Linked DNA regions of Homo sapiens: all the other regions are linked to region 1. Evidence: fine-mapped expression QTL. A gene starts in region 1. Each other region holds a variant in brackets. All regions are shown on one strand. Distances are from middle to middle.

What was found. PIP is the estimated chance that this variant, and not a neighbour inherited with it, causes the effect. A credible set is the group of variants that fine-mapping cannot tell apart.
Region 2: its variant is the best candidate, but not a certain one, in a credible set for the expression of ASAP2 in visceral fat (GTEx, PIP 0.85).
Region 3: its variant is the best candidate, but not a certain one, in a credible set for the expression of ASAP2 in whole blood (INTERVAL, PIP 0.65).
Region 4: its variant is the best candidate, but not a certain one, in a credible set for the expression of ASAP2 in tibial artery (GTEx, PIP 0.79).

The regions. Positions count from the first base shown.
Region 1 is chr2:9,203,128-9,211,127 of GRCh38, reverse strand. ASAP2 (ArfGAP with SH3 domain, ankyrin repeat and PH domain 2) reads right to left here and starts at 4,316. Exons shown (of 28, transcript NM_003887.3): 1 at 3,898-4,316. The coding sequence starts at 4,023. RefSeq lists enhancers at 3,304-4,234, 4,235-5,167 and silencers at 4,597-4,780, 4,527-4,786.
Region 2 is chr2:9,370,877-9,378,876 of GRCh38, reverse strand. It overlaps ASAP2 (ArfGAP with SH3 domain, ankyrin repeat and PH domain 2), which reads right to left. Exons shown (of 28, transcript NM_003887.3): 17 at 3,933-4,122; 18 at 1,884-1,969. Among named protein-coding and RNA genes, the nearest start is that of ITGB1BP1, 49 kb to the left of the region's middle. RefSeq lists enhancers at 1-149, 4,314-4,862, 4,863-5,411. The variant C/T (reference allele first, on the strand shown) is at 4,946.
Region 3 is chr2:9,260,531-9,268,530 of GRCh38, reverse strand. The region is part of intron 1 of ASAP2 (ArfGAP with SH3 domain, ankyrin repeat and PH domain 2); the gene reads right to left. Among named protein-coding and RNA genes, the nearest start is that of ASAP2, 58 kb to the right of the region's middle. The variant T/C (reference allele first, on the strand shown) is at 4,735.
Region 4 is chr2:9,385,358-9,393,357 of GRCh38, reverse strand. ASAP2 (ArfGAP with SH3 domain, ankyrin repeat and PH domain 2) reads right to left here. Exons shown (of 28, transcript NM_003887.3): 21 at 8,000; 22 at 4,812-5,064; 23 at 2,162-2,296. LOC124907730 (a long non-coding RNA gene) reads left to right here and starts at 5,170. Exons shown (of 2, transcript XR_007086203.1): 1 at 5,170-6,480; 2 at 7,933-8,000. RefSeq lists an enhancer at 1-508. The variant A/G (reference allele first, on the strand shown) is at 4,686.

The DNA.
Region 1 (8,000 bases):
GCTGGAGTGCAATGGCACGATCTCGACTCACCGCAACCTCTACCTCTTGGGTTCAAGTGATTCTCCTGCCTCAGCCTCCCAAGTAGCTGGGATTACAGGCATGCGCCACCACACCCAGCTAATTTTGTATTTTTAGTAGAGACAGGGTTTCTCCATGTTGGTCAGGCTGGTTTCGAACTCCTGACCCCAAGTGATCTGCCCGCCTTGGCCTCCCAAACTGCTGGGATTACAGGCGTGAGCCACCGCACCTGGCCTGACAACAAACTTTTAAAAAATACACATGGGTCACCTGTAATCCCAGCACTTTGGGAGGCCAAGGCGGGCGGATCACAAGGTCAGGAGATCTAGACCATCGACCATCCTGGCTAACACGGTGAAACCCCATCTCTACTAAAAATACAGAAAATTAGCCGGGCATGGTGGCGGGCACCTGTAGTCCCAGCTACTCGGGAGGCTGAGGCAGGAGAATGGCATGAACCTGGGAGGCGGGGCTTGCAGTGAGTGGGGATCGAGCCACTGCACTCCAGCCTGGGCGACAGAGCGAGACTCCATCTCAAAAAAAAAAACACATGGGTTAACAGATACACGGTAGTGTTTCATTCACTCACCCATTCAGCCATTCATCCATTTCCCTGACACTTCCCCCCATGTAAATCCCATCCTCACTCCAAAAGCCCTCACTGGGGCCTGTGGACTCACTAACTATATAATCTGGTAACTAATTGTCTGGCAGCTTCTGTGCTATGTACTATCTTCCTAAACCCTCACCACAATCCTCTGAAGTTGATAGGTATTATTAACCAGACTTTAAAGCTGAGGAAAATAAGAAAATGTTAGGCATCTCACTCAAGTTCACTCAGCTGGCAAGCTGTAGAGCCTGAACTTGAACCCAGGTCAATCTGACAAAGGAGTAATTTAGAGAATTCGGCATTAAGAAAAGTAACAGGAAGCAGCATGGTTTCTGAAAACAGCAGGAGCCAAGTTCAAAGTCCACTTCAGAGCTCTATAACCTTTGGCAAATTACTTAACCTCTCTGAGCCTCAATTTCCTCGCCTATAAAGCAGAGATAAGGACTGAATTCAATACCTGTGAGTTTCATAGTACAGGATAAGGGCCCAACAGTTACTATAATAATATTCCAGCAACAAGTATGCAAATCAAAACAGCACATTTTAATTGTAAAATGATTCTTTGGCAGATAGAACCTACATTGGAAATAACAGATTCAAAAAGGTTAATCAGTTTAAAATTAGTTTGCTGGCCGGGTGTGGTGGCTCACGCCTGTAATCCCAGCACTGTGGGAGGCTGAGGCAGGTGGATCACCTGAGGTCAGGAGTTCGAGACCAGCCTGACCAACATGGTGAAACCCCATCTCTACTAAATACAAAAAATTAGCTGTGCATGGTGGCGCATGCCTGTAATCCCAGCTACTTGGGAGGCTGAGGCAGGAGAATCGCTTGAACCTGGGAGGCAGAGGATGCAGTGAGCCAAGATTGTGCCATTGCACTCCAGCCTGGGCAACAAGAGCAAAACTCCGTAACAAATAAATAAATAAATATAAAATTAGTTTGCTAGTTCCGTGATTCATTTGTTTAAACATAAGACCAAGAGCTTGCAAATTTTATTTATTTGTTAAATGAGTAACTTTATGTCATGATACCCTCTCATGTTTCGTCTCAGTATGAGAAGATTTTTGTTTAAAACCAAAATACTGTACACATCAATTGTTATTAAACCATACATAGAACAAGTTTTGGTAATAGACACGAACATTAGACACCTGGGAAAGAGCATTATTTAAAGAAATCCACATTGATTTACCTCAGAAAGTGAACAACTTTCAAATTTAGTTATAAAACCAAGCTCACACATACCATCATCATAGCATGTATGTAGATTTGCTTAAAGTGAAATAAACCTGAAATGATTTTAATTTTTCCATTTTGAGACTTGAACCAATTCTTGGGCTTAGACGGCAGCATGAAGCAAGCTTGCAATTTAATGAAATGACCAAATCCAGTCTCTTTGTAATCTGCTCAGTAACTGAGCTCTAGGGTAATCTCCTGCACAGCATACAAAAAGAGCTTTGGAATTATACACTGTAAACTAAAATTAATCAGAGAAAGGTATGCCAATTTTAATAGCAATTCTTGTTTGCTTGGCTTTCCAACATCTGCCAGTGTTAATAATATTTAACTGACAAACTGCAGTGGGGAAAAGCAACAGAACTTTAAACATAATCAAGCTTTCTAAAGAAAGACATCATGCACAATGCTTCCTTCCCTTAAGAAATATTCAGCTACCTTTTTGGTTGCAATCATTCCATAAACATTATTAATGGTGTATTCTCAAAACACCGTGCTTTTTAACTGGCACTTAGGAAAAAATTTCATTCACCCATCCCCATCTGCCTCATTTGAAGGCATCATCTGTAAGCCTTGCTGCTAAAAGTAGAATTAAGTGATCTGGGGAATCACCGAATTCATAGGAAAGGTTTACATGCAGCTCTCTTCCGCCAAATTAAATGGAGAGAAGGAAGGCTACCCAAGTTATATTAACAGGATTCAGAATGCTGAATGTTACTTTTGACTCCCTTTTATTGACTGTTTACAGCTACAAAGAAAAAATTTTTCCATTAAGGGAAAACATTCTGGATTTTTTTTCAAGCAATTCCTAATAGCAGATGCTTTGTTCAAATGGGAAAAAAAAAAAAAAACCAGAAAAAAAAAATAACGCCATTGCTTCATTTAAAGCTCTTTGGTGACACCCACCCCCCCACCCACACACACACTCCTGCTAGCCCAGGCGTCTTCTGCTAAAACACCTGCAATACCCAATTTTAAAACTGTAACCTGACATCCTGGCCCAGAGACATTTAATCACAGATTCACTATTGCCACACGTGTGACTTGTAAACCTATTCTGAGCCGAGCAGAGTGCTAAGCACTTCACACAGTCTCTGATCCTGGAAAGGATGCATTACTAATCCCGTTTGATGGGTAAGGAAAAGGAGGACTGCAGGTGAGGATGTGCCTCAAACCACAGCCAACGGTGGCCCCTGGACTCACAGACTCTGCCCCTTTCCCCACGGCTTTAATTTTCAACCAAGCTTCTTCGTTCCTACGTGTTCCTCTCCCCAGGACCTGGAGAGCGTACTGCTTAGCAGCTAGGCGTGATGACTTTGCACCTTGAGAGCACTTTACTAAAACCAGGCCTTTTCCAGGTTGAGGGGGAAGGGCGGCATTCCGGGTTCAAGCAGGTGAGACCCAGGTAACCGGGGAGCGGCTCCTGGAGGCTTCTTGGACCCAGAAGCGCCGACTCTCACACACCTTGCCCGCAGTTCCTTCTCCGGGCACGGGTGGAGCGCAGCCAGGCCGCCCTGGCTGAGGCGGGCACGCCTTCCCGGGCAGCCCGGGATGCCCCGGACCCGCGGACCCGAGGGTGGGGGCCCTGCGGCGCTCGGGGGCTGCGGCGGGGAGCTCGGAGCGCGGAGCTGCCCCCGCCGGTCCACTTCAAGAACAAGTTGATAAGGTCCGCACCGGGTACCAAAGACCCCGGGCGGCGGCGGGCGGCGGCGGGCAGCGGGATCCCCCGCTCGCCGCGGACCCCGACTCTGGACAAAGTTGGCCGCGCTGCGGGGAAAAGACCAGGCCGCGGAACCCCGCGAGGGCCACGAGGCCGAGAGAGGGGAGGTCTTAAAGAGGCCCAAGGTGGCCATCACCCATCTCCTCCGAGCCACCTAGGCGGGAACAAAGGGCTTCTGTCTCGGGCAGGGTTGGCCCGGCCGCGTCCGGCTTCGGAGCAAAGAAAGTTTTCTCGGGATGCGGATGCGGGAGCGGCGGGCGGGGCTGGGGCGCGGGATACCTGCGGCCGGAGCCGCCGCGCAGGCCGCCTCACCTCCTCGATGGCCGCCACAGTGTTCCGGCACTGCGCCGTGCGGGTGGTGAAGCTGGAGGCCGTGGGCGCCTTGTAGTCCTCATGGGTCTCGGCCACGAATTCCGACACGGAGATCTGGTCCGGCATCGCCTCGGCGCGAGGGCGCTGGCGCACAGCCGCAGGGGCGCCGCCGCCTCAACTGCCGCAGCAGGCTCCGACCGCCGCTCGGACACCGCCGCTGCCGCCGCCGCTCCGGCCCGCGGACAAAGGGGAGCGCCGGGCGCGGGAGCCGCGCGGGGCCTGGCGGCGGAGCAGGGGCGGCGCGCAGCCCCGCGCAGCTCGGCCGGTCCGCCCGCCTGCGCGCCGAGGGCTCCGAGTCCGCTGCCGCCGCGTCCTCTCAGAGCGAGCCCCGAGGCGGGCGCGCACAGCCGGCGGGAACTACCCGCCACCCAGCCGCGGGCCCCGACGCCTCCCGCGGAGAGGGGCGGGTCCGGGCCGGGGGCGGCGGCCGGCCGGGCGTGGGGCGGGGCGGCGGGAGGACCGGGCCGCCAATCGGCGCGCTCGCCGCTGCCGCGCCGCCGGGAAGCGGATCCCGCAGGAAGGAAGGCGGCGCGCGCCCCGGCCCGCCGAGCCGTTCCTGGCCGCCGCGCGCCGCATTGTCTCGGCGTTCCGGGCCCCGCGCGCCGCGCCCATGCCCCGCCCCCAGCCGGCCCGAGGCCCCGACTCCGACCCGCTGCCCGCGAGGGTGCGTGTGGAGGTGCGCCCCGCCGGAGTCCGGCCTTGTGCGCGCCAACCGCCCCCCGCCCACGGCGCGGAGCACCTCTGGGCTCCCCACTTGAACGGCGGGCCGCGCCGGCCCATGAGGAAAGCGGGGTGCGGAGCTCGCCCCCTGCCGGAGGATGCGCTCCGCCGGCGGGCACCCTGCGGGGACCACAGCCGGACGCCAGAAGTGACCTGACCGTGAATGTGCGCTTTGCGTGCAGTCATTGCATCGTCGCAGGCCTAGGAGACAGATGAAGAGATGGGTGCTTATTTTATATAGGGGACACAGTGTGCCCAAGAGCACAAGATAAACGGCCGGGTGGGGATTCAAACCCATGTTCCCTGACTCAAGTGTGAGTGCTTCAGAGCGGTGAGGGGCCCCTACTAAAAGTCCCAGTCGCGTTTCCTAGGCTGCCCAATGATAGGTATTCTCGGTTATAGTTTTAGGGTACTAGGCCAGGACCCACCCTGGGAAGGCTGCTGAACGCCCTGAAGTGGTATTCCCGCAGGCAGAGGAGGGAACCGAGGGGGTGCAGGAGGAGGAGGAGGGGGAGAACGTGCTACAGCAGCCAGCCAACCTCACACAAAACCGGGCCAGTAAAGGGTTCGAACTGGTACCGATTTTTATTTACAGCTCTTAAGGAAATTCTCGGTTATACTGAAAAATCCAGAAGCTCTGAAGATACCAGTCAAATAAAATCACACCCTATAACTCTACACCAGACTTGTGGCATGGTTTCTGTAGCTGCCAGCGGTAAAACCAAGAGAAACTTTACAAAAACCTTTTGTGCATCTGAAAAGGAGGAAGTGTGAGAGACACTGGAAATTCAATATGTCAGACAAAGCCGTCTCCTGACACTGCAGGACAGTAGACCAGTCAAACAATCTTTTTAAAGCCCCCATGTAAGAAGTTGCTATATGAGGTGGCAGCTTGGGTCAGACATTATGTATGGCCTTTGGTATTTTAGTAGCACTGCATGTAAAATTTAACTTTCTAAAATCGCTGTATTCGTGGATAGCTTTTATCATTGCACTAGACAACAAGTTACAATTTAAAAATTGTATCTGTTTCTTTTTATGTTTTTTGATCCTTTTGGTGTCTGAAGTTTTCCTCTATTTGCAACCTTCTACAATTCATGTTTTGTGTTTATTATTTATATTAATACATCCTCTCCAACACCAGGCAGATTCTGTTCCCGCCTACCTAGTTTCCCAGCTACAGTTTTTGACATGAGGGAATATGCTGAATAACTTTTCAAGTCTTGATTTGTAGAGGGCTGGTCTCTATGAGGCTATGAGGGATCTAAGAAAGAAAGTCGGGTTTTTCCTTGATGTCTAGTACAGCATTAACCAGACTAATCAATACTTCTACAAGGACAAAGTTAAGCTTGGTATTCTCTGTTCTCTCTTTATATACAACTCCGGTTCTTGTTTCTTTTAGTTTAATTTTGCAGATACAGGAAGCTTTAGTAGCCTCAAAAAAATAAAATTGCAAAGCTGTGTTGCATTGCAAGGCTGGTGGAAAACAACAATTAGTTACCAAGTTCATTGGTGGCCTAAAGAGGATACCAAATTGGTAGAATGCTAGAGCCATTTATTCCTCCATCATCCCTTAGAAATCTAACTTGCCTACTGCATAAGCCTAGAATTAAAGCAAGACCAGAGCAAAACATAGCTAATGCCTTTCTGAGATTAATATAAGAATGAGTAGCTTCCAATAAATAACAATAAAATTAAAGTTCAACATGGATCAAGGAAACACTCTACACATACTCATTTTTTTAAATGCATCAAGAGAAGAAGAGTATGCTGGTAATGTCCTTACAGGCCTATACTTCCTTAACCAGAATTACTAAAAATCCCTGAAAATGTAGCTTTACAAATAGTTCTTAATAGTAAAATTCATCTGAAATGAACTGATGTGAGGCTATGTGTGGTCTTGTTTATCCTACCTCATGTGAATATGTATGTTTTGCTGCAAAATATAAACATGGTTGATTATGAAGTATTGCCCCAGACCCTACTGGGGGTAATTAGGAATATGTTATTATATGCAATGTGTTACCTTTCTAAAATCCGAAAATTTCTGAATCCACACATATCTGGCCCTTGGGGTTTCAGTAAGAGATTGTAGGCCTGTATTATTTTTTTTTAAAAAAAAAGGCGAAGAAAAAGGAGGAAGGAAGAAGGAGAAGGAAAGGAAGAGGAAAAGGAGAGAACGAAAACGTGATGTTAAAGACATCGTTTCCAGAGAAGAGACTCTCCTCCCAAAAATGAAATTTTTAGCGGCCCAGTGAGATTGGCCAACAGCCCATTTTCCAAAGGAATCTTCTGCCTCTAGTAGTTCACAAGAACCTGGGATTTATCACTCTCAGATCAAGGTGTAAAATATGTTCTTGACTCTGAAATTTGCTTGAGGGTTGGCTGGTTTACACAAGACTTGTCCAGTTCACTTGCTATTAACTTGTAAATGATTACTCTTGGAATGGGCAAATATGTGCTTTGAAAGAACTATGGTAAGAAATAGTAACAACAACCTAAAAACCCTGGTGATGTGAACATGGAAGTATAACTGAAAGTTTCTTTTCGTAACTTAATAATACTCTGCCCAAAATCGTGTTGCTGAAGGGACCCATTTATCCCCAAAGTGAGAGAAGATTGAGTACATTTACCACAGTTATCTCACTTTAGCACCCAGAAACTATTTTACAAATGAAAACTTGGGTTTTGGTAATAAATTGCTTCTCTGTGATAAGTAAGCTAGCCTCCCTAGGCCGGGCGCAGTGGCTCACTCCTGTAATCCCAGCACTTTGGGAGGCCGAGGCGGGCGGATCACGAGGTCAGGAGATCGAGACCATCCTGGCTAACACGGTGAAACCCCGTCTCTACTAAAAATCCAAAAAATTAGCCGGGCTTGGTGGTGGGCACCTGTAGTCCCAGCTACTCAGGAGGCTGAGGCAGGAGAATGGCCTAAACCCAGGAGGCGGAGCTTGCAGTGAGCTGAGATCCGGCCACTGCACTCCAACCTGGGCGACAGAGCGAGACTCTGTCTCAAAAAAAAAAAAAAAGAAAAAGAAATAAAGCTAGCCTCCCTAAAGAGTGTAGCTTGGACTAGCTAATTTCTAAGGCGCCTCCCCGTCCTGGTGTCCTGGTGTTCGTGCTGCCATTTTCTGTGTTTTATGTTAGTTTAGACACAAGAGAGAAAAATGCCACAAAGCATTGCTAAACATTAGTACTGAGACTCTAATTATTGTCCTAGACTTTTGAGAATGAGGCATGTTTTAGATGCCATTGGGAGCTAAATTTTTGAGAAAGTGGTCATTTTGTTAAGATGGTAGATTTAGATAACAAGCAGATTTATT
Region 2 (8,000 bases), 170 kb before region 1:
CAGGGAGCCTGGGCTACGGGCACAGGAAAGGCAGACAGTCCCCGAGTGAACGGTTTCTGTAAATCATCGCCAAGGTGGTGGGACCTGGCACCGTCCCTGCCTACATGGCTGGGGAAGCCTTAGCAGAAGGTCATCAGGGAAATAACACGATGATGGCAGAAGAGGTCAAAAGGGGAGGGGGGCATCCCTGTTGTTGCTGAGCATGTGGGGCCAAGGTGGGGCAGTGCACTACCGGGGTGAACCTAGAGCCCAGCGTCCTTCTCACGTCCCACTGGCTGCGCCGAGGCTGCTGTGCTAGGCCGGCCAGCTGTGCTGGATGCAGGGCCTCTGGATGCCTGTGTGACTCATCCATCCTGTCCCACGGGAGGACGGAGGCTGAGCTTTTCTCTATCATTATTTGATATTCCCTCCAGGAAAGGGAAAAGTCACTTTCCCAAAGCCCAGAGTCCCCAGGCTCCTCGGCCTGTTTGCCCTGGGAATACCCTCTGAAAACAGGCTAAAGGGGAATCTTGAGATTTTCAAAAGTTCTTCCAACATATCACAAGACCAGGTCACCCACAAAAGGTGCTCAGGCTTGGCAGACATGGGACAGGCCCTCAATCCTAGCAAACATGGCCACTGTCACATTCTGAGGAGGGGCAGTGAGCTTTGTGCCCCTGCACAAAGTGGAGACAGAAAGGCGATCTCAGGAAGTGGCACCTGCTGCTTCCATGAGAAGGAAACCAATTACATTTTCAATATCAAAAAAGGAGTTTCTTTTTCACCAAATTGTGGGCATGGGGAGCGGGGGGTGTGTTTCATTTTCAGAATTCTCCCCCACTTTTGTCCTCCTTCCACTCTGGAAAAAAAGAAACTGGGACCTTCCCTCTCCTGCCCCCTGAAAATGTGCATGGAGGGAGAGGCATCACGCAGCTATCAACCAAATGTTTACGAAACCCCTGCTGCGTTCTAGGAGCCGGGCTGGCACTCAGAGATGGGGCATCAGGGCAGCTTCCACCACGAGTCCAGTGAACTCAGCCTCCTCAGGAAGAAGCTGCAGGTCTTGGGGTTGACCACCCCACACTCCCCTACTTTCTGGCCATTTCTTCACTCCTCTGCTCAGAAATGGGAGGAAAAAGCAGAGGACACAAAATGCAAACTATCCCATGGCTTTTGCATTTTGGAATTTTCCATTTCCTTTGGAGCAATTTCTGTGGCTTTTAACAGCACCTCCTCCTCCTCCAGTACACACATGGCTCAAACCACGATCAGGGAGTCAAAATACACGTTGAGGGGTCTTGAAGTCCAGCCTTCAGCTGCCAGGCAGGTAACACATGACTGAAGCAATATGCCCCAAACCACGGGGACTCCCAGATCTGTGGTAAACTGCCTGTGCACATCTCTAAAGGCCATTTCTAATCAAAGCATAAAAACAACTTCTCGACCCAAACAAAACACCCATAATCCAGTGCTCTGGTTTCTAATCTCTGGCTCAGACCATGGCTAATGTGTGGATCCCTCCTTGCCTGCTACCTCCCTACTGCTCAGGACACTGCTTGCGCAGTACGATGACCTGGCTCACAGGATGAGGCGAGGACGGCCCCTGTGCACAGAGGGTGGTCATGGGGTCCCCAAGTTCAGTAGCCATATCTACTTGGTGTCTCCCTGAGTACCAGACACTAGAAGTTGGACCCTGCAATTACCACAAAAGAGTTTCTAGTGCTTTTTTAAAGGATTGCCATGGAGTACCTCACACCTGGCAGTCCTTTTTCTGTCTTTAATTCATGTTTAGAACTGGGAAGGTTCTCCTGACAACACATCAGAAGCGATGAGGCAGCGTCCGATTCCTTCCCCAGAAATACCAAGGAGAAAACGAGTGCCTCCCTTAATTTCAGAACACCTACCTGTTCTGAACTAAAAAGTCTACAATGTGAAGAGAGGTTCGATCCACGGATCTGACTGCAAGGTGGAGGGCCGTTTCATCCGGCTCCTGAAAAACCAAACAAAGGCATTCCAGAATTCTAATGGGAGCATTCAATTCTGTGTCCAACACCGGTGAAATCGTGTACAACTCTTCCAAAAGTCTTTTATCTTTCCCTTCGAGAAACTTATCTCTTACATAGAGTCTCTTTAATCTCTACACAAGCTCTTTGCCCTTGGGAACGTGCAATTTGGAGATTCGTCCTGTTTCTCCTGACTCCATGGGAAATAAATGAGAAGTTCAGGAGTTTCATTTCTAAGTCCTCTCAATCGACCTGTCCCCATCCCTGCATCAGCACCACAAGGCAGATCCCTGCCTGCAAGCAAGAATCTTGTTCAAAGGATCCAGGAAGGTCCCCCAGGCCACCTACAATCCAATCTCTTTACCTGCTCCTTGAGTAGAAACATATGTTTCTTAAGCAGGCTTAAAGTTTTGCGTTCTACACTTACAGACAAGGCTACGAATGCTAATAACTGCACTGTCTCCAACTCATACTGGGGATTCCCCAACTCCACTGCCTTTTCTGAAAGTACACCTGGCAGGTGGGGGAGAAGAGATGAACAAGGATTGTTTCAGCAGGTGGGTGGGTGAGAGAACCAGAGGAGAAGGACAGATACAGAAGACAGGAGGTGAGGGCAAAGGAAGGTGCTTCCCAGGCCGCCTGCCCTGCCTGCTGGGCCCTCTGGCGGCAGCACAGCTCAGTGCTGGGCACCCTCCACACTGCATTGGTGGGCATGAGTTCTTTCTGGGGATGGGGAGAGAGTGGGACCAGCTCAGAGCCTGCACGGACATGCCTGTTACCAAGAGAAAGATGCTGCAGCCGTGAGGCATCCTTGCTGATAGGCAGCCAGCCCAGTCCTGAGGTCAGGAGGTTCCAGGGGACCAAATGTGCATCTACAGGGTATTTGTGGACCAGAATCTGGACACATGCCACCCCACTTGGGTGCTGGTATGTTACTGCAAACCCACTCCAGCTGGATGCCCACCCTCTCAAGACAGCTCCCCCAGGAAAGGAGGGGTCTTGCTCCTACTCTATTCCCTCTGAGGGGGAGCACAGTGGGGTGTGGGTTCCAGGGAACCGCCCCTCTCAGAGAGCTTCTCTCGTTAGCATGAAGCTCAGGTTAAACCTGCTTGCAGATGAGGGGTCCCTCTCAGGCTGCCTAGCTTCTGAGATGTCTTCTCCTCCACCTGGAGATGGGTTTTCTTTCCAGAGCTGGCATTACATTTTTGGTGTAAGAATAAACCACTAGGTGGGTACAAAGTTTTAGACAAGGAGAATAAATCCTGCAGATCTACTACAAAGCCTGGTGACTCCAGGTAAGACTACATAGCGTCTATTTCAAAACTGAGTCGATTTTAAATGTGCTCTCCATTAAAAATGGATGAGCCTGTGAGGTAATGGATATGTTAGCTAGCTTGATGTAATCATTCCATGATGTAAACATAGATCAAAAACATCACAGCATACCCCATGAACATAGATACAATTATTTTCCTACTGAAAAGAAAAAACCCTAGTTTATTCTACCCCAGTACCCCTCTCCGTGCCGTCTTCCTCTGGAGAATTACCCAGCTTTGGTCAGTACTGCTGATTCCACAGACCTGCCACAGTGCCCCAGTTTTCCTTTTTTTTTGAGACAAGGTCTCACTCTGTCGGCCAGGCTGGAGTCCAGTGGCACAATCACGGCTCACTGGAGTTTCAAATTTCTGGGCTCAACCGATTCCTCTCACCCCAGCCTCCTGAGTAGCTGGGACTACAAATGTACACCACCATGCCTGGCCAATTTTACTTTTTTTTTTTTTTTTTTTTGTAGAGATGGGGCCTCCCTATGGTGCCCAGGCTGATCTCAAACTCCTGAGCTCAAAGGATCCTCCGCCTTGGCCTCCTGAAGTAAAGTACTGGATCCCAGGCATGAGCCACCGTGGCCGGCCTTTTTTTTTTTTTTAAAGTAGCAACAACCCACACTCTTACATGTCCGTTGGCCAGTGGGATTTTTTCCGTAAGATCCACACCATCAGCATAAGCTTGGAGCAATCCAAAAATATCTCTCGTTTTGACGGCCTCGCAAAGACTGTGAAGCTTCGCCGCGTTATCCGCGTGCTTCTTCCTTGCGTATCTCCTCTCGATGTACTTGGCTGTGATGTAGTCCTTTCTTGCATTCCTGAAACCAAACGTAATTGCCTTGCAAATCATGAAGGGCTTCTACCCGCCGTCCGGCCTCCCTTTGTCTAAGGCCATGTTAACGGTTCCTGCGCCATGTCCCTGGTAAGCACCGCTGGCCCCGAAACACAAAGCGGGAGTGGCCGCCATGTGGTTCTACGGCTGCACTGGTCTTCACTGCGACCTCCTGGGAACTGGCCAGGGGGACAACTCCCCATGTTCTCTCAGCCCACCCGCCTCTCTGCCTTGTCTCCCTCCCCTCACTCCTAAGTTCTGTGATCTGACCTCACTGTCGCCCTCGTCACCTCCACACCCTTCTTATTCAGGTCCTTCCAATCCGCATGCCCTGCGCCTCCTCCCCCAGGAAGGCCCTGCCCCTGCCCTCCATGCAGCCCTGGCCAACCTCTGTTCCAACATTCTCTACATGAAGGCCTGCCTGCCTCACTGCCCGACAGGCCCATGAGCTCCTTGGGGCATGGACTATGACCTCTTTTTTGTAGGCACCATGCCTGGTATGAAAGGCACTATCAGATGAACTGAAATGAAATGGCAGTCCTCTTTGTGTTCTACTTTCTGGCCTTTATGTGGCAACATGCTCAGACTCCGCCCCATCCAAAGAGCCTACAGAAGCAGGAACAAAAGGGGGCCAAAGAAGCCTGAGTTCAAATCCCACTCCCACCACACACTGCTGCTTTGAACTTGAATAAGTATTTCATCTCTCTAGACTTGTAAGTCTGACTTGCGAAAATGCACACAATACATCCTCACAGTAGCACCATGAGACGTATGTGCGTCAACACACCTGCAGCACACACAGTGGGTCC[C/T]GGGCCTTGGAAAGACCCAGTGAACTTACAAGAGGGAGAGCGAAACAGCAGCTCACTGGTCACAGAGTACATGCATTTTACAATCCCAATTCTGAAGGTTGAGGGTCACTGCCCAGGGACTCTTTGAATCTTGAGAATCAGGCAAGAGCCAGGCAGGGGCAGATCAGTTGCATCCATTTGTAACACAGCACTGCCTACAATCTGAGGACAAATGCGGCTGCTCCCCTTCGAGCTGGAGTCCCCGCACGGTTCCCTCCTGACCTCCGCTCTCTCACTCAGCTGACTATGGCAAGGGGCCATGGCTGCTGGAGCAGTTGTTGACTTTTCTGTACCTGCCCTAAATCCCCGTGGAACAACTGGCCCCCCAGAAGGGGAGCCTGAGCTCCCTGGACATGCCACTGGAGGCAGGGAGTAGAGATCCTGTCTACCCTGGGGTCCCTTGAAGATGGGCCAGCCTAAGATGAGAAGCCATTACTCCCACAGCACCCAGACGGAACTGAGTGGGCAGAGGTCTCTTGCCAGCGTCTGCCAGGCCTCAAATCTGCTTGTCCTTGGGTGCATGTGGCTCCTGGACACGCCGCAGCGTGAGGCTGGCTGGTGCAGCTGGAGAGGAAATCACGCCCCAGGGTGCCCGTTCCACCTGAGCAGGCAGCATGCTTCACAGCCCAGGAAGGACTTCCAGGGGCACCTGGTGAACTTGTGCTCTGGCACTTTTATCACACTGCCTCCCTCCTGCTCCGGCTCCAGTTCTGCCCGCTCTACAGGGCCTAGGTTAAGGCGGGTGCCTCAACGTCCCCCGGCACATGCTCCCCGTCCACACAGCGCTAACCCGTGCACTGAGCTCACTGCGGTGCTGGCTGACTTGTGTGTGAGATACGTGGTCTCAGTGGGTTCCCTCAACAGTGCCATGAGTTTTCATCTCCACCTGTAGGCACAACAGGCCCTCGAATAACAGCATTTTGTTATAATGTTAAGAAAAAAATCAATTCCCAGGCAGGGTCCCTGTCTGTGTGGAGTCCACCTGGGTTTTCTCTGGGCACTCCGGTTTCCCCCACATCCCAAAGCTGTGCACGTTCGGCTAACTGCTGTGTCTCAAAGGCCCCACTGCGACTGAGTGTGGACGTGGGTGTGACTGCGTCCCACAGTGGGACGGGGTCCTGTTCAGGGCTTGTTCCCACCCTGGACTTCAGCTGCCAGGACATGCTCCAGCCACCTCTGACCCTGAACTGGAATAAGTGGGTGAATCATTATCTTACTGGTTTTTATGATCTTTCTTTATCCCACTTAGTAGCCAGAATCTTTCTTAAATGTATGCATCGCTCATATTTCAATGTTTAATATTAGAAGTGTTCTGGGCCTTTATTCAAAAGTTTGGTGATGTTCTCATGATCAGAAATACATGGTAGGAACTGAACTCTGGTTTACATCAATTGGCATAGGGTAAAACTGGTTTCTTATACATCATTTTGCTTAAAGTCACAGGTTTCCAGAAACCTTTGAGTTTCTGGAACATTCAGGATTTACTGTACACTGAAGTCCATAAAGGGAAACTGGATTCTGTTTCCTCAGGCAGCTGGTGGGCCTACAAGGGAAGACCCATTTTATTCCTGCAGGTTCTCCTCTTAGGGCCTCCAGCACAGTGTGACACCCAGGGAGATGCTCCATTCCTGGCCTGGCGAGTGTCATGGTGGGCAGCCCATTTAATGATGTAAATGCCTCTTCTGACAGGCAGTTAGACTGGACAGTTGTCCAGTTTCATGCACTTTCAATCATCACTGTGGGACAATCATTACTGCGACCTCCACAGGAAAGGGATAGAGAGAAAGTGGACTTCCTTTACTTGTTTTTTAATGTATTTACTCATCTGCCCAGGGCTTGGAGGCCCCGAAGGCAGCTCCTACACAAACATGGGCACAGGTCTGTTTAACTCCACACATGCCCCCTGGTTTTGTGAAGGAGGTTTGCTTTGCTAATGTGATCCCTCAGATGGGGTTTCACCGTGTTAGCCAGGATGGTCTCGATCTCCTGACCTCGTGATCCGCCCACCTCGGCCTCCCAAAGTGCTGGGATTACAGGCGTGAGCCACCGCGCCCGGCCCTCCCTCTTTTTTTTAATGACAGGCTTTTGCAGAAAAACAATTAACATAATGATACATTTGGTGTTCAGAGGAGGGGCTCTCCTTACACTTCTCAAGGACAGGGTGTGTATAATGGTCCCAAGTCACAGGGAGAAACAGTTCTGGCTCCTGTGAGCAAATACAAGCCTAGCTTCCCTGCTCCACCTCCCCCAGTTACACGTCCCTGACACCCCCAAGATCCGTCTTGGGATTCACAGGCCACTAGAGGGTGTCCTTGGTTTCCCCTTCAACAGATTTATCTGCAGATGGTGTGCTGTTCTGAAATAAAGCTAGAAGCAGTGTATTCCTTTTCATCTGGAAGTAAAATACTAGCTTATTTAAGCAGGCACAGAGCTGGGAGTACTTGTTTGACTCGCTGATTCATTAAATAGTCACTGGTTCACCAGAAGCAACATATTACGGTGGGAAAAACCAAAATGAGTAAGAAGTAATTCATCAGAAAAATATATGTAAATGCCTGAGTATACTATGAAGTGGGATGAAATGTTTTAAAATAGAGCCAAATGCTATAGGAGCACAGAGCCAAGAAAGTAATTTCAGTTGAGAAGGAATGGAAGTAGCTGATGTTTCGCCATCACACGGGTCATCCGCCCTCATTTTGAAAAAAGCCCGGGGTTGGGGGATGTAAATTTCTTTTTCAACAGTGCCAAGGCTGGAGGAGGGCTACAGTGCAGACAGAACGTTCATACTGAAGGGTTCCACATTGACAGTGTTCATTTTTTAGAATCGCCTAGCCCCAGAACAACCAAATGCCCTGCTTTCGTTAGGTACCCCTGGTGCTTGGAAGAAACGACACACACTTTGTTCAGAACTGACCGATATGACAGCATTACAGGGTGCTGGTACCGTCAGTGTGAGATGAAGCAGCTGAAAGAGCAGGTGTCAACTGCACAGCAGGAGATGACCTCGCCATGCTGG
Region 3 (8,000 bases), 57 kb before region 1:
ACCTGTGGGCTCCGTTTAAAGCCAGAGCAATAACGAACCTCCCCCCTTGTGGGAATAAAGCCAGGCCTGAAGAATAGCAGGTGTCGCTAAGAATTAAGATCAAATAGACGTCTGAGCTAAGTCACAGCTGAGGAAAGTGTGTGCCTAAGGACAGATGAGAAGGGCGTGTTTTGGTATTATCTTAAAAAATTAAAATTACTCAGAGTAAATATACATCCACAACAGAAGACATGGACAGGCTGTCCTAACACTCCTCAAAACAGCCCCCAACTGGATAAACCGAAATGTCGATGGTAAAATGAATAAACTGATGATGGACATTCGTACAACAGAATGCTACACAGCAACGGAAGAGAACAAACTTACCCCACAACACAAGTGAACTTGACAAAAATGTTGAGCAAAAGAATACATGCAGTATAAAAAGTTCAAAAACAGGCCAAACTAAATTGTTTATGTTTAGGGATATACACCTTGTTGGCAAACTACAAACTGAGGCAAGCTGAGGGCTGCAGTCAGGGCAGGGGAAGCTTCTGAGGGCGTTACGATGGGACAGGCCTGCGGGGCGCGCTTGGAGTGCTGGCCAAAACCAGGCTTTATAATCATTCTTTTTTTTTTTTTTTTTTTTTTTTTGAGATAGAGTCTTGCTCTGTTGCTCAGGCTGGAGTACAGTGGTGCATTCTCGACTCACTACAACCTCTGCCTCCTGGGTTCAAGCGATTCTCAGGCCTCAGCCTTCTGAGTAGCTGGAACTACAGGTGTGCACTACTACGCCCAGCTAATTTCTGTATTTTTAGTAGAGACGGGGGTTTCACCATGTTAGGCAGGTTGGTCTCGAACTCCCGGCCTCAAGTGATCCACCCACCTTGACCTCCCAAAGTGCTGGGATTACAGGCATGAGAAACTGCACGTGGCCTTCATAATCATTCTTTAAATGTCATTTGTATCAATAGCAAAGACATGGAATCAACCCAGGTACCCATCAACAGTGGATTGGATAAAGAAAATGTGGTACATATACACCATGGAATATGACGCAGCCATAAAAAAGAACTAAATCATGTCCTCTGCAGCAACATGGATGCAGCTGCAGGCCCTAATCCTAAGCAAATCAACACAGGAACAAAAAAACAAACACTGCATGTTCTCACTTATAAGTGGGAGCTAAATGTTGAGTACTCATGACATAAAGAAACAAACAATAGAAACTGGGGACTACTAGAGAGCGGAGAGATGTGGAGAGAGGCTGAAAAACTAACTGTTGGGTACTATGCTCAGTACCTGGGTGATGGGATCAATCATGCCCCAAAACTCAGCATCATGCAATATATCCCACGTAGCAAACCTACACATGTACCCCCCGATCTAAAATAAAAGTTGAATTTTTTAAAAAAATCTCATTGAAAAAATTTTTAATGCTATGTGTGTGTATATATAAGATATATTATTAAGAATACAAGTAAAATTAAAGCATCTTTTAAAGAAAAGAAATTAGAGTTGGCGAAAGAACCAGAAAATGTTGCCAAAATGAAAGTGAACTTCAGGAGTAATTTATTAGCCTAGCATGTTGGTTGACCACAGGAAGCAAAAGGGACTTAGGAATCCCTTAGTACCATTTCTAAACCATCAGAGAGAAGCTAGAGACAGAGGAAACTGAATGCAGGTCGGCCAGCTCAGGCCTCGGGCTTTTCTCCCCAGCATCAGGCGCTTCCCACTAACTCTGGGAGGTGGTTTTGGGCAATCTTACTAAACTACTTACTTAATCCATCTTACAAATAACTGTTTTTCTGAGCTCCTAAAGTAGCAACTTTGACGGCAGCAAACATAAGAGAAACACTTCTTTCATTTTTCTCCTAGATGGCTTCCTTTCTGAGATTCCATTCCCATCTTGACTAGAACGGGGTGGTGGCAGAGTTCACACCTCTGCAGAGGAAGGCTAGCCTGGGTAACAAGGTGCACCCAGACCTGCAGGCCCCCCAGCAGTGAGGGAAGCTGGCCTGTGTACATGCAGACGCCCACCACCCGCACAGGAACAGCACTGAGGACAAAACACAAGTAAGGCAGCTCTGCAGAAGATGAAAAGGCAACTGGCACAGTGGCTCATGCTTGTAACCCCAACACTTTGGAAGGCTGAGGTGGGCAGACCACTTGAGCCTAAGCATTTCAGACAGGCCTAGGCAACACAGTGAGACCCCATCTCTACAAAAAGTAAAAAAATTAGCCGGGTGTGGTGGTAGGTGCCTGTGGTCCCAGTTACTGGTGAGGCTGAAGCAGGAGGATCACTTGAGTCTGGGAAGTCGAGGCTGCAGTGGGCTATGACTGTGCCACTGAACTCTAGCCTGGGCAACAGAGTGAGATCCTGTGTCCAAAAAAAAAAAAAAAAGATAAAAAGGCAATCGTTTTTATAAAAATTCCAATTTCAGAAATAGAAAATTACAAGCTTATGGGCTGGGTGTGGTGGCTCACACCTGTAATCCCAACACTTTGGGAGGCCAAGGCAGGGGGTGGGGGGGTGGATCACTTGAGGTCAGGAGTTCAAGACCAGCCTGGCTAACATGGTGAAACCCCGCTTCTACTAAAAATACAAAAAATTAGCTGGGCATGGTGGCACGCGCCTGTAATCCCAGCTACTCGGGAGGCTGAGGCAGGAGAATCACTTGAACCGGGGAGGTGGAGGTTGCAGTGAGTCAAGATCGTGCCATTGCACTCCAGCTTTGGCAACAAGAGTGAAACTCCGTCTCAAAAAAATAAATACATAAATGAAAATCACAAGCTTGTTTATTAAATCCATTACACGCACAGACACACACACACACACAAATTGTAAAAGCAAAGAAAAAAATACTTATAAAAGAGGATAGACAAGTGATATATCAAACACTTAAAACTCTGTATATAAAGATACAGAAAGAAAATAATCATTGTTGTCTTAGGAAAAGTTGGAGGAATTTTTTGTTTTCCCACTTTTAAACTATCATTAACATGAATACATTATTTGATAATTTTTTCGAATTAAAGAAAATGAAAAGTACTATCCTATACTTTGTTACCCTTTTCTCTTCTCCTCCCATCAAGCAGGGTATTGAGGTCTTTAACTCTGAGCACAAAAATGTGTCAAAGGGACAGATTAAACAATAAAACAAAAATACTCAAAACTGTAGTCCCTCGGTCTCCATGGGGGATTAATTCCGGGATTCCGTTGAATTCCAAAATCCAAGGATGCTCAATTCGTAATGTAGAATGTTGTCATATTTGCATGTAACCTACACACATCCTCCCACATGCTTTAAATCATCTCTAGATTACTTATATCTAATGCAATGTAAATGCTATGTAAACAGTTGTTACACTGTATTTTTAAAAATTTGTATTTTTCATTATTTATTTATTTTTTTGAGATAGGATCTCACTTTGTCCCCCAGGCTGAAGTGCAGTGGTGTGATCACGGCTCACTGCAGCCTCCACCTCCCGGGCTCAAGTGATCCTCTTGCCTCAGCGTCCTGAGTAGCTGGGAGCACAGGCACATGCCACCACACCCGGCTAATTTTCAAATTTTTTGCAGAGACGTCTCCCTATGTTGCCCAGGCTGGTCTCAAACTCCTGGGCTCAAGTGATTCCCCTGTCTCAGCCTCCCAAAGTGCTAGGATTAGAGGCATAAGGCATTGTGTCTGGCCAAAATTTGTATTTTTTAAATTGCTGTATTAGTTTTTATTGGATATTTTTTCTTGAATATTTTCCCCTTGAGACCCTATGTGACTGAACACGAGGATGCAAAACCCACAAGTGCAGAGGGCCAATGGTACACAGGGAGAAAAAAACTCTGGAAGAGGCAAAGGACTTAGTTATAGCGCGCACCTAGATGAGGAGAGAAGACGGTGACAGGAGACTGAGTTTTCGCTATCACCTGAAAACTTTACCACAAGGATATATTCACGTATGACTTGCATGGGAAAGATTAATAAATGATGAGCGAGAAGACAGCTCTGGGTGTACAGAGGAACAGCACATGAATACAGCCTGCTGGGCTGAATCACTGTCTCCAACACCCTGTGCATCAGCCACAGTGGCCGTCAGAGCTGGGGACTCATAATGAGAACAGCAGAGGCCCGGACACACTGGAAATGCCATCCAAGGAAGGAAGGTTCCTGATGGGGAAGGGGACAGTGGTGACGCCAGCACGGGCCCCCCCAGTCTCTGGAAGACATGCCTGCAGAAGCAAAACCTTTTCCCAAGGCCAAATACTAAAATATACCTCCCTCCTTCCCCACAAGTTGTTTCTGCAAAGAAGTTCCAGCAGTACTTGTGTTTATTATTATTATTATTATTATTATTATTTTTTTGAGACAGGGTCTCACTCACTGCCCAGGGTGGAGTGCAGTGGTGTGATCTTGGCTCACTGCAACCTCTCTTTCCAAGGCTCAAGTGATCCTCCCACCTCAGCCTTCTGAGTAGCTGGGACTACAGGTGCATACCACCATACCTGGTTAATTTTTGTATTTTTAGTAAAGATGAGGTTTCCTTAGGTTGGCCAGGCTGGTATTGAACTCCTGACCTCAACTGATCCGCCCGCCTTGGCCTCCTAAAGTGCTGGGATTACAGGTGTGAGACACGGCACCTGGCCTTCTAGCAGTACTTTTAAAAGGGAAAAAAATGGAGAAAAAAATACTTAACCTATTATAGAAGAACCAGGCAAACTGTGCCCTCAGCTGATGACCTCCAGACGGCCGTCAACTG[T/C]GCCTGAAGTGGACGGTGTCATGCGGTATGAACAGATAAGTGAGAAAAGAACCCATGTAGCTCTAAACCCACACACACTATGAAAAAACGACGCATGAACAACGAGAGGCTGCAGCCTCCTGCAGTTTAAGGAAGCAGCGCCCACAGGCACTCCCGGGAGGTCTGTGCCTCGGAGGCTTCGGTGGGAGCGCCCCATGGCTTTCATGGGCTTCGCCAGGATCCCTATCTTAGAGAAACGGAAACAGATGACAGTAAACTCCAATTCTGTCAAAAGGCTTCACATCCTGACTTTTATTTAGGGGGAAGAAAAGTCCTAGAGACTTTTCTGGGAGCTCTGGGGGAGTGAGAAAGGAAAAGCCACATTTTGGCAAGATCACCACTGCACAGCAGCAGCACAAACACGGCAGCGTGGGGCAGCTCTGGGCAGGACCCCCCCAGCCAGCCTGGTGCCCTGCTTTGGGGAGAGCCACAGTGGCACAAGGGGGCCTGGCCTGGGGTTCCCTGACACCCACATTACTGAGCTGTGGCCCCTGGGAATGGCAGGAGAGCAGACTCGAGGTAGAAAATGGACTAGCTCAGGAAAAGAATCACAAACAAGAGGGGACATGACACCAGAAGGTGCTGGGCACATTACTGACAGGCAGCAGGGACACCGAGACAGTGGAAAGCCAGCATGCAGCCACGGCCTGGGCCAGGCCCTCCAGCCGTGGCGATGCAGAAGGCAGCCGAGCTCAGAGTCTGGGAAGGTGACCTTCAGCTGGGCGTGAGGTCAGCCTTCCACATCTTCCCAGTCCCAGAAGACAATGGAATCCTAAGCCAGGCTGATTTCCCCAGGAAACGAGGCTCAAGCCACATGAACTTCACTTTAGTCAAATAAACAGGGGAGAGGAGATGTAAGATAGCCGAGTTTTCTTTCTGAACCCCGCGTGAAAGAGACTGAGGACTTTGATTCCTGAGGCCATGGAGGTCAGCCTGGAGACGCCATCATCACACCGTGTGCTGGGGCTTCTGTCCCAGTCGGCATGCCAGGCTCTGCCATCCAACTGGGCTGCCACTGCTGTCCACTAGCGGTCACATTTGTGTGCTGTGTTCCTTTAAAAAGTACACCTTGTGACTGTGAACAGAGGCTTTAAGGAATGGATGCATTAAAAATGAGAAAACCCAGTGCTGGATCCCTTTGGAGACAAGTGCATCAGTTACAAATCACTGGTTCTGGATTCTGGAATGAGACTGACTTGGTTCTAAACCAGGCTCCAATTACTAGCCGCGTGACCTCAAAAACGGACTCCACCTCACTGACTTCTGTTTCTTCATCTATAAATTGGGAATAACAATACCTGCCTCACAGGAGATCACCAATGCTTATGTGTCTGCCATACAGTCAGCACTCAATATCTAATAGTGATTACCAGTGTCCTCCAGTTCTCGGAGAGGCTAGGTGTAAACTACGCCAATTAAAGTGGCCGTTAAGAAGACGCTGTTACCCCAGGACCGTCTCAGTCATTACGACAAATACTTTTCAGGTCTGATAATGTTTAGAATGAGAAAAAAATCTCTAAGAACAAAAAGACTTTACAGCTTATACCAGCCTTTCATTTCCACTAATACATTTTTTTTTCCATCAACATTTAAATTTTTCAAAACTTCATACAGGCATGATGGCACGCGCCTATCATTCCCAGCTACTGAGGAGGCTGAGGCAGGAGGATCGCTTGAGCCCAGGAGTTTGAGTCCAGCCTGGGCAACGTAGCAACACCCTGTCTCTAAAAACATTGTTTTTCAAAACTTTTCCTGGTGTGCTCAGGTGTTTCTGACTCCCCACGGGGAGGGGCACATGGCAAATGGTGGGGTGAGGCGCTCTGGTCCAACTGGCCTCTCTCTTGAACACTGAGGGTTAAAGGAGCAGGGCATGAAACCCCAGGTCTTAAGTGCAGGGGTGAGTAGGAGTGGCCACCGGGGTGTCCACCCATCCCCTCCTCACCTACCCTGACTGAGGTAACCCCAGGTCTGCCCCTCTCCCACCTGGGACACCACCAGCGGGGCCTCTCCCCTGCATGTGGCAGTCCAGCCAGAAGGAACTCTGCCCCCTCCCTCCTACACTCGGCCACACTGTTAAAGGTTGGGGGCAGCACTGGGCAACCTCCAAAGCTCCCAAAGTGCTCCCAGGGAAAGAAAGGCCTACTGTGCCACTCAGCTCAGCTCACTAGCATTTGAGATAAATACTTTTAAGTTACCAAGGCAGCAGTAGGTGTGTACTCTAAAATCACACCTAGGGCCCAACTCCAACTACCATACAGCAATTTACACTCCACAGAGCACTTTTACTTCCATTATCTTTACTGCAATATTTACAACCACTTGTGAAATCACCACCTCTTTCCCCAGCTTAAAGGAGAAGAAACTGACTCAAAGAGTTTAAGTGACTTGTCCAAAATCATGTGTTTGGCTTTGAACCGATGAAATGCTGGGAGAGCTCCAGCCAATGGAGGGAGGACGGAAGGCAGCTTCCAGAGCTGTGCTCCCCCTCCCACTTCCCAACAGCCTCACTTCCAGAGCCAGAAGCGCTGGCTTTCTCTAACATTTGGGGAAAATAACCACCCGGCATTACCCCTGCTTTCTCTAAACCCTGTTCCACTAACCCCAGCCCAGCTACAGGCAAGGGGGCTGCTACTTCCACACCAAGAGTGCTGTCCACCCCTTCACCAAGAAAGCTGCCAGTGGCTCTCCTCCACACAAGCCAGCTCCTGCCACCCCAAGGGGCTGTCATACGGCTCCCAGCACACTAGCATTTGAAGTTCACCAGGGGCACAAGAATCTAAAGTTCACCAGGGACACAGGCACAACCCCCCTAACCACCCTGGGTAACCAATTCCTTGTTTCAGAATCTTCTGAAGGGCCAGGGTGGCGGAGAAGCAGATAGAGTAGGGGCAGGGTCATCATTTGCATGTGTCCAGGTTACACAATCCGGGGCTCTTCCTGGGCTTTTCAGAGGGAAAATTAAAACCCTGCTATCTTTAGTCTTTCATTTCTCCATCTTCAACTTCTCAGTTCCTGTTTCCCATCCAAAAGACTTGACCCCATTCCCCTATGGTAGAATGGGAAGCAGGGAGGAGAAAAACCCAGAATAGGGAAGGGAGAAGAAAGGCAGGAAGGAACCACCAGGATTGCTGGGGCCCTGCACAAAGCCAACCTCTGTATGCAGCAGAGATTGTTTTCTAAAAAAGGAGTGTGACGATGCAAACAAGGTCATGTGCCTTTTAGAGCCT
Region 4 (8,000 bases), 180 kb before region 1:
CTGCTATTTCCTTGCCAGTTTTCAGAAAACCATTCACAGGGAGGAAGCAGGGAGTCCTTTCCAAACTAATAAGGAAGCTGGGAGCCTAAAGTTAGGATGACAATTTTTCTATCAGCCTGTGAGTGAGTATTTTCTCAGCTAGAACTCCCTGGGGGAAAGCCAGCAGTTTCCTGCTCTCCACTCAAAGACCCAACAGCAGGAGGCCGGGGCCCTCAGCTCTGCCCGGGGAAGCAGGGCCTGCTTTGCACATCGACTGACCTGTGGCCAAAGGGATGAGGCCCTACCCACTTCATCGGGCTGCTGGGCAGGGTGGATCTGAGGAGAGATGGGAGCTACTAACTTAGTAACGGCTCCTCAGTCTCCGGAGTGGGTGGGTGAAGAGCTTTCTTAGTGTCTACGTTTTACAGACAAGGAGGCTGAGGCCCACGGAGGGGAAGAGCTCTCGTCAAGGGTGGCAGAGCTGGTAAGACCTGGAGGGAGGCTGTGAGTCCAAGTCTCCTTCCTCCGTCTCTCCTCCCTTGATAGGCATTAAGCCCTCTCTAAATGTCGGGCTTATCATACTGGGCCTCAGGATGGGTAACACATAAGGCGCTGGGTTTCCCTCTGCCAGGAAAAGCCAGGAAGAATGAGGCCTTCAGCTACACAGAGAGGAAACTGGCGTGGGGAAACATGAAGGGATCCAGCTTATGATCTTTCTTTTTATCATTATTGTTTCCTTTTTCCAATTTAAAGGAAAACTCAAAAGTCTGACTCTAGCACACAAATGCAGCCCCTGGACCACCAGACGGAGAGGCAGGAAAGTGGTTCCTTCTGGCCTTTGGTGTGTTCGCCTTGGAAACCTCTGAAGACCCTCCCAGACCCACTGCTCCCGGCTCTGCTGCCGGCATGTGCACACATGGCACTGACTCTAGCTGGGGCTGGGCTGCTTTTAATTTTAACTTACTCTAAGGAAGTCACGAGCACCTCGGCTCTAGAATTCTCATGCTCTGGAAGCAATGAAGCCCAGAGATGCTGGACTCCCCACTCCAGGGCTGCTGCAGCAGGAGACAGGGCAGCATCCAGGGCTCGCTTCTCTGATCCAGTGAAAAAAGACTTTAGTTCTGTACACTGGAGAAAAACTTCTTCCTAAAAACCTCCTCCCGCTTCTTTACCCAAGGTTTTCAGGACTTTCAACCACATGTTGATATTAAAGAAAACATGCCAGGCTGGGCGTGGTGGCCCACACCTGTAATCCCAGCACTTTGGGAGGACAAGGCGGGTGGATCACTTGAGCCCAGGAATTCGAGCCTGGGCAACATAGCAAAACCCTGTCTCTACAAAAAATACGCTTGCACCAATAATCCCAGCTACTCAGGAGGCTAAGGCAGGAGGATCCCTTGAACCCAGGAGTTGGAGGCTGCAGTGAGCCATGATTGTGCCACTGCACTCCAGCCTGGGGGACAAAGAGAGACCCTGTCTTAAAAAGAAAAACAAGGCTGGGCACCATGGATCATGCCTGTAATCCCAGAACTCTGGGAGGCTGAGGCAGGTGGATCACCTGAGGTCAGGAGTTCGAGACCAGGCTGGCCAACATGGTGAAACCCCATCTCTACTAAAAATACAAAAAAAAAAAAAAAATAGCTGAGCATGGTGGCAGGCTCCTGTAATCCCAGCTACCTGGGAGGCTGAGGCAGGACGATCTCTTGAACCCGGGAGGCAGAGGTTGCAGCAAGCCAAGATTGTGCCATTGCATCCAGCCTGGGCGATGGAGTGAGACTCTGTCTCAAAAAAAAAAAAAAAAAGAAAAAGAAAAGAAAAACAAAAAGCCAGATTCTAATCCAAGTGACTGTCCCCAAAATATTGAAAATCACCAAATGGCCAAAGGAAAAAGAAACCCTGGGGTACTGTGTAAAGGAGGAAATGTTGCTGAAATGCTTTGGAAGACAGAGGAAGGGAGTGAGGAAGCTACTTGGTGGTGCAGTGTGGGGACAGGCAGGGGTTTGCAGCTGTGACGAAGGAGGCTGGGGGAGCTGAGAGCCCTGCACAAGAGCCACAGGGAGCCATACAACACGGGGCACTTGGCACGTGTCTGTGCTGGCAGCTGTGTGGCTCCAGAGAGCACCCCCCGCCATCCAGATCTACAAAGCCCACGGGCAAGAAAGGAAAAAGGAAAAAAACGTACTGGTAGATGTCACGCGAAGAGGGGGCAGCGGTGGATGGACAGCTGGCGGATCTGACGAAGATCGCTGCCGGCTTCCACCGTCCACACTTACAGAGTTTGTCTTCCACAGGGTGTTAGCAGAGGAGGCTGTCTGAACTGAACCCACACGCATGCACACAGACGCATGCACGCACACATACACGTGCACACACGAACAAAAACAGAAACAGAACACTGCGTTATTGATCCTCCCCCTTATGAAACGGTCAGTATGACCCTTCTACCTAGAACCCTCAATGCTTTTACTCCTGTCTCCGGCATGTGGAAGATAGACACTGATACTCGCGAAACCGAAGAGGCTCCAAGGACTATTCTCAGCAGGTTTTCTCAATCCATGAAATTTAAAATTCCTGAGTTTATTTATCAAATATCAGTATCATTTGAAGAAGGAAATAAACAGTCACAATGTTCTCTTGCGAACACTGCACTTGGAGCTTCTGGAACTTCTGCTCCTCTCCACCCTCCCACCGACTCCTTCCCATGGGCTGTGGGAGTCACCACCATGTGAAGAGGAACACCGTGTGCCCAGCTGGCACAGGTTGGGGGCAGAGTGCAAATCAGACACTAGAGGAGGGGCTCTCTCTCCCTCCCTCCCGCAAACATATTTCTGGCTGGAAGCAGACACAGATGACACCAATCAGGTTCAGGTGACCCACAAGAGATGGCATTTTCCAGGTCACAAGCCCTTCTTCTGCCTCACAAACCTCCAAGCTCAGGTGCACAGGGCCCAGGTGCTAGGTGTGACCCCATGTTGGAGGCTGTGCACGGCCTGTAGGGCAAAGGCTAGGCCTAGAAATGGGCCAGGCCACTGGGTCCAGAGGAAGCCTTCGAGCTCCTCCCCTGGGGAGCCAGGTCCGCCCCAAATGCAAGGCTGACACTGTCAACTCCATTTGCTATTTATCTGCATGTGAGAATTCCATCCAAGACCACATGTGGGCTACACAGAGAATGGTGGAGATGGCAGGTAAGGGGTATGACCTACATTACTGGAAGAAGAAATGATGCTAGGGACAGGAACGGCAAAAAGAAAAAGGAAAAAAAATCAAAACCCTTGAATTCCAAGACTTCGGGAAACCAGGAGATTAAGAGTTTACCCCTCCATGACCCAGTGGAACAAAATAAAATCTTTCCTCCCGTGACACACACAGTCAGCAAAAGCCACTGCTGGGAAGGAGGATGATCAAAATCATCTTGATTGTGGGCCGTAGAAAATTGATGCCTGCCTGCAGGATCTGGGAGAGGCGGGGAGAAAGCCGCACCCACCCTGGGCCCCGACCAGCCAGCCTGGGGGTTTGACAGGGAGGAGATGCGACTGTGTGGCTTCATCTTGTAGCTGCCTTCTGTGCTCAGGGACGTCCTCATCAAGCCAGGGATGGACGCGGTCTGGGATGTGGGCTGTGTGGGGACAGCAAGCAGCTGGCTTCTGGGCCTGCCTGGGGGAAGGTCTGCTCTCAGCAGGTTTGTTCTTCGGGGTATGACTCAGTGACTCACATGACAGGTTCACTGTCACTTCTCTGGGCCTCCCTGAATGACAGGGGCAGAGCCGTGTGAGGGTCTGTGAGACACCCAGGACGGCAGGGAAGATGGGCCCAGCAGCACAGCCGAGTGTACGTGCAGCACAAAGCTGCAGCCGTCTGCTCAGCCCTGGGCCAGGTCTCCCGGCCTCAGCCACCCTCACGCACCGACCCAGCCTGCCCAGCTAGCAGCTACCACATAAGGACAGTTTGGGATGTATTTGGGGACGTGGGCTCCACTCCATCAGCGGCTCACAGCGGCCACAATGCCTGGATACATGCTCTGTGCAGACTCTTGTCCTTCCTGGGCCCCCCGCCCCGCATCAAAGTCTCAGCAGCCTCCTTCATGTGGGAAACCCTCTGAAGGCCATGGCCACGACTGGAGCTCAGCCCAGAGCTGAGTGGGTCACTCGCCGGACCTGCCTTCAAGAAGCACCGTAGCCAGCTGCTCTTCAGGAATGAACAAATTACTTAACTTCTGAGAGCTTTGGTTTGCGTATTTCTAAAAACAGAAAGTGTCACCTGTTGAGTCAAAACCTCCAGGTTACAGCTGAGGTAAGAAAAGCATGCTTTTTGCCCTAAGACACTGGTAGGCCCACAGGGCTGGTTTTGTATTTTACAATTAGGCCGAGCATCGTTCCCCAATATCTTTTATGGGGATCATGGGTAAGAAGTAATCGCAGGGGCCATGAGCTGGACCAGATGAAGGCAGAAGAGAAATAAAAAGGAAGAATGAAGGCCTGGGAAGGAGTGGAGAAAGGTAAACAGAAGGGTGCAGAGGGGAGACCTGAAGGAGTGTGTCTTTTGGCCCAGCCCCGGGAGCCCAGTTGGCCACCTCAGGCTGCCCTGGGGGAGTTCCCATGTTACCCAAGCCAGGCAGATGCCACAACTCTGCCCAGAATAAGAGTCAAATCAAGAGACTCTACCACCATCTGGCCTGATAAGAATGATGGAATCCCTTTAGGAAGCAA[A/G]CAGAAAATAACTACAAAACAAAAGAGCCCAAAGGTCACTGAGTTGGAGGCAGGGCAGCTGCAAACTTCCCAAACCACAAAACAAGACCCTCTATATATTCACAGGGATGACGGACAGCTTCATACCTTTGCCAACATTCCGTGGAGGAAGCGGGGGGGCGCTGGTGGTGCTGGGGGCTGCAGGCTGGGCGGGAGGTGGGCTGCCACTCAGGAGGGCTCCGTAAGTCTCATTCTGCAAGATGCTGGGCATGAAAGCCCTCTGCTTCTCCTTGGCAAGGTTTGCAGCATCTCTGGCCAAAGATACAGCGTTAGACTGAAGCTGGTTGGAGCCCAGCTGGTAGAAGCTGATGGGCCGGTCTTCCCGCCGGTTGGGACTGGGCTGCAGGAGAACATTGGGGCAGAGGCGTGTGAGACAAATATGAACTGCTCCTGGTGATAACATTCAACACAGGGGTGAAAACCTCACTGACACCAACTCTGCTGGGCCTGGTACCATTTGAGCTCTCAACTGTTGCCTGAGAGCTACAAGTTGCGTGAGAGCTGCAAGAGTGAAAATTCACTCCTCCTTGTGTCTCGTGAAGGAAACACACACTGATATGGTTTGGCTTTGTGTCCCCACCCAAATCTCACCTCGAATTGTAATCTTCACTTGTCGAGGGAAGGAGGTGACTGGATCATGGCAGCGGTTCCCCTCTGCTGTTCTTGGGATAGTGAGTTCTCACAAGACCTAATGGTTTTATAAGGCAGTTTTCCCTGCTCTCGCTTGCTCTCTCTCCTGCCACCCTGTGAAGAGGTGCCTGCTTCCCCTTCTGCCATGATTGTATGTTTCCCAGCCATGTGGAGGTGTGAGTGAATTAGACCTCTTTCTTTTATAAACTACCCAGTCTCAGGTATTTCTTTACAGCAGTGTAAGAACTGACTAGTAAACACACACATACCAAAAAATCTGTTAATTACAGGTTAAAATTCTCCATTCTGTGATGGATTTAAAATATAAGCTATTTATCTTATGAGTCGAAGTTATCTCAACCTAAGTCAGCATTTTCCCTGAAGTTCCCCTTCCCAAACATGCCTTCTTATGCTACCCCACAGGGTGGCCAGCTCTGGCCAGCCCGCTGCACTCAATCTCCAACAGCTATATGGCTCATTCAGCAGAGATCGATGTTTTCCTCCCATATGAACAGGAGCTCCTGAGATTCCTCCAAATTAGGGTTAGCAAACAGTGGCCTATGGACTACCACCTGTTTTTTGTCAGTAAAGTTTTATTGGAACATAGCCATGTCCTGTCATTTAGATACTGTCTAAGGCTGCTTTTGAGCCATCCTGGCAGAGCTGAGTAATTGTTAACATGGACTGTGACGCTTTAGGCCCGTAGAGCTTAAAATATTTACTATCTGGCCCTTTAAGAGTTTGGCCACCCCTGCTCCCCCCTGAAGGTTATATGGTTTTTTTTTTTTTTGAGACAGAGTCTCTCTCTGTTGCCCAGGCTGGAATGCAGTGGCGCAATCCCAGCTCACTGCAAGCTCCGCCTCCCGGGTTTACGCCATTCTCCTGCCTCAGCCTCCTGAGTAGCTGGGACTACAGGCGCCCCCCCACCCACCACCAAGCCCGGCTAATTTTTTTGTATTTTTTAGTAGAGACGGGGTTTCACCGTGTTAGCCAAGATGGTCTCAATCTCCTGACCTCGTGATCCGCCCGCCTCAGCCTCCCAAAGTGCTGGGATTACAGGCGTGAGCCCCCGCGCTCGGCCGGTCATGTGCTTTCTTGGAAGTGAATGCATGGAATGATGACTCAGGTAACTTAGACCTAACTTCTATTTCAAATGCCAGCTTCATTAAACTAGGTATGATTGTGAGCAAATGACTCAACCTTGCTGACCACATTCTTGTCTGTTCACTGGATATGACGAGTGCTTTTCTAGCACAATGCCAGGTGCTTAGCAGGTGCTCAGTATGAACTGTGGCAGCCCTGCCTCTCCCTCACAGGACCACCAACCCTTTCTAGGTTCTGGACAAACCAATGGTTCAAACCCAGCTCAGGTGTGCAGAACTAAGCACCCAGTGGTTCTTCACACATATTTCTAAATTGCAAAGCCCACGGCTGCTGTCTGCTGAGAATCAGGTGAGCAGCGTGGATGAGTCTTAGGACTCCACACCAGCCCCTGCTCTTGTGCTTTTCCTTGGACTATGCAACCTGCTTCATCACTGCTCATCAAATGGGAATGTGGCATCTGACCGCTTGATGAAGAGGCAGGCTGGGGCAGACTGCTTCCAGCTTTTTTTTTTTAAGGCAGGTTAAGTATGAAATCAGTCAACTCTTCTCACTTTGACAGTGTTTTGTAGCTAACTCAGTGAAGTAATTTCTTATTCTGTATTCTAAGAAGCAGTTAAGTATGGATGTTAACTCCATGAGCAGACAGTCCAACAGGTTTCAGAAATGCCATCTGGTTACCTACTGACCTATCCATCCATCTAATTAGATATCCTCAATACACATCAGAACATTAATGCATTACAGAAAAAAAAAAAAGCCAAACCATGAAAATGTGTTTAATGTGGCATTTGCCACTAATTCAGCACAGAGCACATTCCAGACATGCCTCGAAGCACCATGCTGAAGGACAGATGGAAGTGGGTCGCGGCTAGGAGCCAGGGCTTTGGGTCACAAGGCCTAAGTCTGACTCTCAGCTCCAAGTCCTGCGTGAAGGCAGCAACCTTCCTGGGGCTCACCCCTGCGTATGAAGCAGTGAGGATGGTAAGAAGGGAGCTGGAGGAGGAGGCAAGAGCCTTCGTGCAGTCCCAAGCCTGCCTCTAAATAGCTGCTTCACTTTGGCCAAGTCAACTTTTCTCTTGAGGCTTCAATATCCCAAACTGATAAAGGAAGGGGTTGGACCCAGTGAGCTCTAAAGGTCGTCTGATGATTTCAGTTGATGTTTTTATAAGATCAACCAGGAGAATGTGATCACCTAGACTGGGGGAAATCTGGCTCTTTATGACATGACTCCATAGCAAGAGACCTTCCTCTAAATCCACTGGAATCAACCCCCCCGCCACACACACCTTTCCTTTGTAGCAAAAGGCTGCCTATAAGTACATAATTAGCCATTCCTTTAAATTAATGGGTGCAGGAGCTGGGAGACAGGAGATGGTAGTGGGAAGGGTAAAACCAAGAGCCTACTGAGATCAATGAAAGCATAAAGTAAGCTACATTTTCATTTCTATAAAACAGCTTTCTGCCTTAATTACAGATTAGGACCCACACTGTTCTGGATGAAGCTGATCAAAACTCTTAATGGTTAGCAACCTGGCACAGACC